Linked DNA regions of Homo sapiens. The protein of the gene in region 1 purifies or fractionates together with the protein of each later gene. This does not show direct contact. Each region holds a gene or a part of one and is shown in the gene's direction. Other genes may lie near its edges. The genes, in order: RBM27 and KSR2.

Region 1 (3,382 bases):
ATTAGCCAGGTGAGGTGGTGCATGCCTGTGGTCTCAGCTCCTTGGGAAGCTGAAGTGGGAGGATCACTTGGACCCAGGGAGTCGAGGCTGCAGTGAGTGTGATCTTCCCACTGCACATTCCAGCCTGGGAATCAGAGCAAGACCCTGTCTCAAAAAGAAAAAAAAAAGGTACATATCTATATTTGGTAGGGCTATTTTGATACATCAGTTTGGTATGTCCCATGAGTCATAATGTTTGGTGTTAGGTTATGAGCATTTAGACCCTTCAAGGAATGGTGGGAATTTTTCCCTTAGAACACAGGACGATGTCTGTGCAGGCAGTAATGGATTTATGAGTCTGCTCTAATGTACATTCTCACCATGCTATGCTCCAAGTGTTTTATGGAAACATTTGGCAAATGCTTCAGGAGGTTTAGCAATGATTTTGCTAGATAGACTAGAATGAAAGCCCAAATAAAAAAGAATCTCTTCTATTATGTTTTTTAGAACCCCCAGTTCTATAAATGAGGACCTTTGATAGGAAAGCTATAGGGATGGCTAAACTTCTACTTTTCTGAAACTTTGGATCCCTAGTCCCTTGTCTGTGTTGCTTTGTCTTTAAAATTTGCTTTCCCCTATTGGAATTTGCTGGGGAGAAAAAAATGTTTAAAAATTAGTACCAAGTAACATTTGAAATGGAGCAGTTTTATGAGTTAGGATAGTATTAGGCATTTGTTTAATGTTTATTGAATGCATAGATGAGCTGGGAGGTGCTTATTAGTGTATAGCGTTTCAGAAGTGGAAATAAGAAGAACTTTATCCAACATAGGTGGGGCTGTGAGAGATGCAGTGAGATGAATAAGCAGATGATTCACCTTTTTTCTAAGGTTTGAGTCTATATATGTAGATATCAAAGCCAAAGGTCAATACCTGTATTAAGAATATTTCTTGTCCTCATCATGACTTTTGTAAGTAGAGCAACTCTACTTAGAAAAAAAATTATTTCTTCAACCAAGACAGATGCTAACATTTACCTGACACAGATATAAACCATGGGTTATCCTAGGCAAACCAGAACATATAGTTGCTCTAATTAAAAGGGACTTTATTTTTTTTAGCTCTCATTGGAGATTGTAGATCCACCTTAACAGATTTCTCTCCTGCCCTATGTTATACTTTTTAAATAACACAGAATTTGCAGAAATCATTAGTAAATTTGAGTGCAAACTTGTATGTTCTTCTAATATATATTTTAGACCGCAAACCAAGGGCCAAAATTTAAAGACCGTCGGCTACAGATATCATGGCACAAGCCCAAGGTACCATCTATATCCACTGAGACTGAAGAAGAAGAAGTCAAGGAGGAGGTAAATTTAGTGGTTGGAAATAAGAGTTGAATTAGATCACTTCTCAATTATGTATTTTTTATGATATTAAATAGTATAAATTAAAAAATGCTGGGTTTTTCTTTCATGCATGCAAATTAAGACCCGTTTAGATGTTTATTAGAGAATTAAAACAGGTCTAGAGATATAAGAAGCTGTGTTAGGGGTTATTTTCTTCTGATATAGGAAAGACTGTTCTTTTTTGTTTACATTTATATTGGATTTATTTGAGCTCTAGAAATTTTTATTCTGATGAATAAAGTCAGAGATTACATAAATGAATTAAACTTTAATTGGTTGGTTTCACTTTTTGTTTATTCAAGTTCCATAGTAATAGATTTGAGTTTCTTATTTTCCTTCTGTGTACAATTGGTTAAAATCAGAGTGTGCAGAAGTTGAACATAGAGGAGAGAATTGGAAAACTAAAGACCTAAATAATAAAAGTACTGAATAATCAGCTTCTTAAAATATATGAGAATTTATTTTGCTTTTTTACTCCTGTTGTTTATCATTAGTTTATTTAGTGAACACTTAGGCTATATTGCGAGGTTTTCCTGATTTATATGACAATCTTGGTTTTAAAAGATACCTAGCTAGCATTTATAGTTTGATCAAGTGTCTTCTCACTATATAGGTAATTTTACACAGCAAAAGCAGAAATGTTCCCTAGATTAAAAGAAAAACAGAAGTCATGGTATTTGGGTAGTGTTTGCAGATACATCTACTTTGTCTAAGATTTTAGATTTTTATATAAGATTTGGAATATCAGTGTCATGGGGAAGCTAGTATATTCACCTCTCACAAACAATTGGATGGATATAAAAACAAAGATTTAGGTGTTTGGTCATTTATTTTCCTAATTTTTTATAGAATAAAATTAATTTTAATTTATCAGAAATGTATCTCATAGTCTTTTTTAAATTTTCTGTACTAAATGTCCACATTATTTTCCTGATGATATTAGAGTAGAAATCTCCTATTAAAAGTAGCAAAATTAGCAGGGGAGAAGAATTCATATTCATTTACAAAAATATTTTGGGCTTTTTTTTTTTTTTGCCCTGAAAGATACTCTTGCATGCATCCCTTATGAAATCTAGCCTGGGCTTTGTATACTAGCCTGTTTGTCCTTTGGCCTAAAAAGTATTTTACTTACCATTCTTGTGCCACTAAGCAGATTTTAACCTCTCTTTCTTCAGGAAACAGAAACCTCAGATTTGTTTTTGCCTGATGATGACGATGAAGATGAAGATGAATATGAGTCTCGCTCATGGCGAAGATGAAATCTGATGCTAGCTGTATAATTTTTAGGAATATTGTTTAGAAGAACAACTTTTAAAAATTATTTAAAAGAAGTCAATGAGCCAAAAAAAATTTTTTTATTTTTCTTTTCAACACAGTAGGTTCAAGAACAGCAAGTTTGCTATTTAAACACATCTCATAACTGTACATGATATTAAAGCACCAAAGGCCTAGTGACTTTTACACAGTTGTGAAGATCCACAGCAATGACATGGATAATCTCTAGAGCCTTATTTTCCACACCACCTTTTTTTTGTTGCTGTTGGTGTTGGATTATGATGTAAATGACAGGGTGTTCAGAAATTTTATTTTGGATTATAATCTACTGATAAAATTTAATTAAATGTCAAAATCACCTGTAATCTTTTAACTCTCAGTTGTTATGGATGGGTCATCAGACAGTAGGAAATATTTGTAATTAAAATACCCTTTTGCTTTCAAGAGTGGTCTTGGAAGAAAAATATGTTTATTTTAATTTTAATTTTTTTTTTTTTTTACTTTGGAGGAGCCCAATTTGTATTCAGTCTAAATTTGTTTTTCATGGTTTTTATGTGTGGTAGTACTAGTTCAGTGAAAATCACAACAAACTGTGTGTTCTTAAATGCTACAGCAATGGTAGCTAGCTCTATAGTATTTCCATTCTCTTGTCATATGAACTCCTGGACTTTTCCTGCTACTGATTCTTAGTTTGCTTTGATATTTAGTGAGCGCTGGTTCGG
Region 2 (3,823 bases), on another chromosome or scaffold:
GCTATTTGCATCGCGCCTTCTTAAATTTGAAAGTCTAATGATTAAAAACAAATCTTAGTTTTTCTTTTCCACCACTTAAAAAAAAAAAACCAGCTTGGCTAGTTCTTCTAGTTTAAAAATACCCTGACCTCCAGCACTACAGTGAGAATTTTGGAAAGGCTGGTACCAGGATATCAGGAGGAAATAAATACAGGCCAACAATAACCAGAGGCCTTTTCTGAGTGGTGGGCGACAGGATGAACAAGGTAGAAGAGAGGTCTTTGTGTCCTCACACAGATGCTGGCATTCTGGGTTTGTCTGGAATTCAGTGAACCTCTGTCCTCTCTGACAGAGATTTCTTCACCAACCATTCATTCAGTGGGTGATTTGTTGAGCATCTACTATGTGTTAGACCCTGGGCATTCAGTGATGAGTGATACAATGTCTCACCTGTTCTGAAGCCTAAAGCCCAATGGGGAAGAGAGACAAGAAGCAAGTCAACCACAAATATATAAATTTGCAACTCATGTAGATCTATGGAAAGAAAACTCACGGGGGACCAGAAACATGGGAGAGGGTATACTGTGGGAGAGCTGCTGACAAAGGTCTTTCTGAGGAGGTGACATTTAAGTCAAGATCTAAAGGAAGAGAAGGATAAAGAGATGTTCATTCTAAGCCAGGGTTTCTCAACCTCAGTACTGTTGAGCTATTTGGGGCCAGATAATTCTTTGAGGTGGCGACTGTCCTGGGCATTGGAGGATGTTAAGCAGCTTCCTCAACTCTCCCCACAAGATACCAGTAGCACCTGGTACTGGTGACATCCAAAAACATCCCCAGACACACCCTGACTTTGCTGTCTGGAATCAATCCTCATAAAGCCCCAAGCCTTGGAGCACAGAGGCTGGAAGCCCATATGGTGGCATGTCAGGCATGGTGTCACCTGAGCTTCTCTGACCCCCACTTCTGATATGGCATCCAGTTTGGAGTCTCTGTTCTCCATGAGCTCCCATAGCTGTCCCATATTCCACAAGGCATTGCTTCTGGGCCACGGTCCTCTAGTTCCAGCATAGCCCTATTTTTGGGTATGTTGGTGGATTTCAAAAGCCTCCAGTTGACATCCAAAGTGTGACATCCAAAACCATCTCCAGACATTGCCAGATGTCCCCTGAGTTGTCTCCAGGCCACGCGACTAGGATTCAAATCCAGCATCCTGCCATCTGCAACCTTCCATGGGAGAAAGGAAATCAGAGGAGAACAGGAAAACACAAGGAGGGGACTCCTTAAGTGAACATTGCAGGGAAATAGGTTTTTAAAGCACTAGTTAGCATCACCAGTGGTTTGAAGGCTGTCTAGGTAAGGAGAATGTGGACTTGCCTTTCACCGTCTGCACGGACAGGGGCTGAAATCTCCAGTCATTCTCTCCATCCTTCCACAGCCCTTCTAAGAAGCAGATCCTCTTGCTGAGCTGAAATCTTGAGACTTGCATCCGGCAATCTTGGTGTTGCTTTCTGAGGCTACTCAGGGAAAGCCCTTCTGTATTCCCCAGGAAGGAAAGTCTCCCAGATAGTGAAGGGCCTTTTCTACCTTCCTTGCAATTCCCAGTTCACTGTGAAGAAGAGAGTCAGGCCGGGTTAGAATGGCTGTCTCTGGTAGCAATGAAGCAACAACATAGACAGTCTGGACAAGATGTGGCAGTTCTGTCCAGTCCCGTGTGACTGATTTGGGCATGGAGACAGGCAGTGGGTGAGGATGGCCTCTGTAGGTCCAGCTGTTTTACCCCTAGAATCAAATCCCTGGAGCTTCCGGCAGTCCCAGGATTGGGAAGGGTAACAGAGAGGACGAGTCGGGCACTGCAAAAGACCAGATCTTGGAAAATTGCTTTGGGAATTGGGACACCTTCCAAGAAGACAGTTGAGTTGGCTGGGGCTCTGCCCTAGATGGGGTCAACCTCTCCCCAACACAGCCCTGCCCAGGTTGGGGCATTGGCAGCTTAAGTGCGTCCTGGACAACAAATGTAATGTATTGGTCCTGTAAGATTCTAGCCATTTTCCTCTGCTTATTTTTCTACATGTGTTACAAGTAATAATGTTTAGATGGGTACATATGAACTTGTGTAAGTTCAAGTAACTGCTATGTAGCTACAGCATGGGCATCAAGGTACTCTAAGGTACTTGCCCTGCCACACCGAGGCCCCCTGCCCCGGCCCCCTTTCCCTCCTAGCCAGCCTTCTAGGGAGCACTGCACACCCTGCCCCTTCAAAGCTATCTGGACAGTCCTGGCTCGACTGGAGCATTAAGGGAGGGGCTGTCCTTGGTCAGGCTTCTGCCCAACTGTGTGATGCATAAATCTTTGCCTGGCTCCTTCTTCCTTCTTTTCGGAAGTCTATCTCCTCCTGAGGGCCTCTGCGGTCCTAACCTATCAAGGAATATCATAGATTGTACTCCCCACCCCATCAAAACACACCCTGACTTTGCGTCTGGAATCAATCCTCATAAAGCCCCAAGGCTTGGAGCACAGAGGCCAGAAGCCCATATGGTGGCATGTCAGGCATGCTGTCACATGAGCTTCTCTGACTCCACTTCCAAGATGGCATCCAATTTGGAGTCTCTGTTCTCCATGAGCTCCCATAGCTGTCCCATATTCCACAAGGCACTGCTTCTGGGCCCCGGTCCTCTAGTTTCCTCATAGCCCTATTTTTGGGTACATTGGTGGATTTCAAATGCCTACAGTTGAGCAGCCGAAGGATTCTAAGAAAATTTTGCTTGTATTTCAAAGGCTCATGTCCCCAGCCCCATTCACTACACCCTCAGCAGAGCCCAGCGTGGAGCAACCTTGTCCCTTCATTCCCCAAATCTTCATTTTATATAGTCATTTAGTAAATATTTGTTAAGTGCCTCCTGTGATTCTGGAAAAAATGGAGAAAAGTGGGTGCTGCCTTCAGGGTACTAGGAGTCCGATGAAGAGAGGGAGGAGTTCCAGTAGGGTCCCGAGGCCCCACAGGAGCTCCCAACCCAGAGAAAGACCCTCCAGGAAGGATTCTCAGAGGAGGAGACTTCTGAACCCTGTCTTGAAATTTGAGTAGAATGGTAGGGAACGGTGTGTCAGACAGAAGGAACAGCCTATGTGTGGACTCAGAGGCAAGATCATGATTTATTGAGGGTAACTGCAAGTGGCTAAAATCCTGCCCCCTGGCACTTGCCTGCCTTTCCCTGCTTTCCCCAAAGCCTGATTTTGGGACCCTGGAGTCTCCATCTCCAAACAGAGGGTGCCCTGGCTCAGATGTGGAGACCTTGACTTCTTTCCCCAGCATGCTCTGGTTCCTACTGTTAGCCTTGGTGTCCTGTGGGGGAAGATGTCTGAGGAGAGTTTTGTGCTTGCTGGAGTCAGACCAGTACTCAGGCCACCTCAGGCCTGCTCTGCATCCCTCTCTGGCTCTACAGACCTCTCTCTCTCTCTCTCTCTCTCTCTCTCTCTCTCTCTGTCTGTCTGTCTCTGTGTCTGTCTCTGTCTCTGCCTGCCTCCACACAGTGAAGGATGTGTCTCTATTTCTTAGTGCCCTGCATTGGGTCCTGAAGTCCATGGGCATCTTGGCTATAGATGGGTTGGCCATGAGCCCTTCTCTCTAATGCATTTTTCATTCCTGTTCCTCTTTTGCTTCACTTTCCCTCTATCGACTCTTGCGACCTGTGTCTCTGATGTCTCTGGGGCCCCCAGTTCTGTCTTGCCATACCAAAAAACCTTCTTCAGCAAAAAACCTCTTTCTGGGACAGTTCATATCACTCTATGAATAGGCCCCTGAAGTGTTGAGGTCAAGGACATGTGTGAACGTGGAAATGTATTTATG

The links.
Region 2: the proteins of RBM27 (region 1) and KSR2 purify together in Homo sapiens (co-immunoprecipitation; one large-scale study listed by IntAct). This does not show direct contact.

What each region holds. Positions count from the first base shown.
Region 1 is NC_000005.10:146,283,387-146,286,768, forward strand, and holds part of RBM27 (RNA-binding protein 27), read left to right. Parts: intron 1-1,235; coding exon 1,236-1,346; intron 1,347-2,560; coding exon 2,561-2,644; 3' UTR 2,645-3,382. UniProt on the Homo sapiens protein: May be involved in the turnover of nuclear polyadenylated (pA+) RNA.
Region 2 is NC_000012.12:117,454,671-117,458,493, reverse strand, and holds part of KSR2 (kinase suppressor of Ras 2), read left to right. Parts: 3' UTR 1-3,823. UniProt on the Homo sapiens protein: Location-regulated scaffold connecting MEK to RAF. Has very low protein kinase activity and can phosphorylate MAP2K1 at several Ser and Thr residues with very low efficiency (in vitro).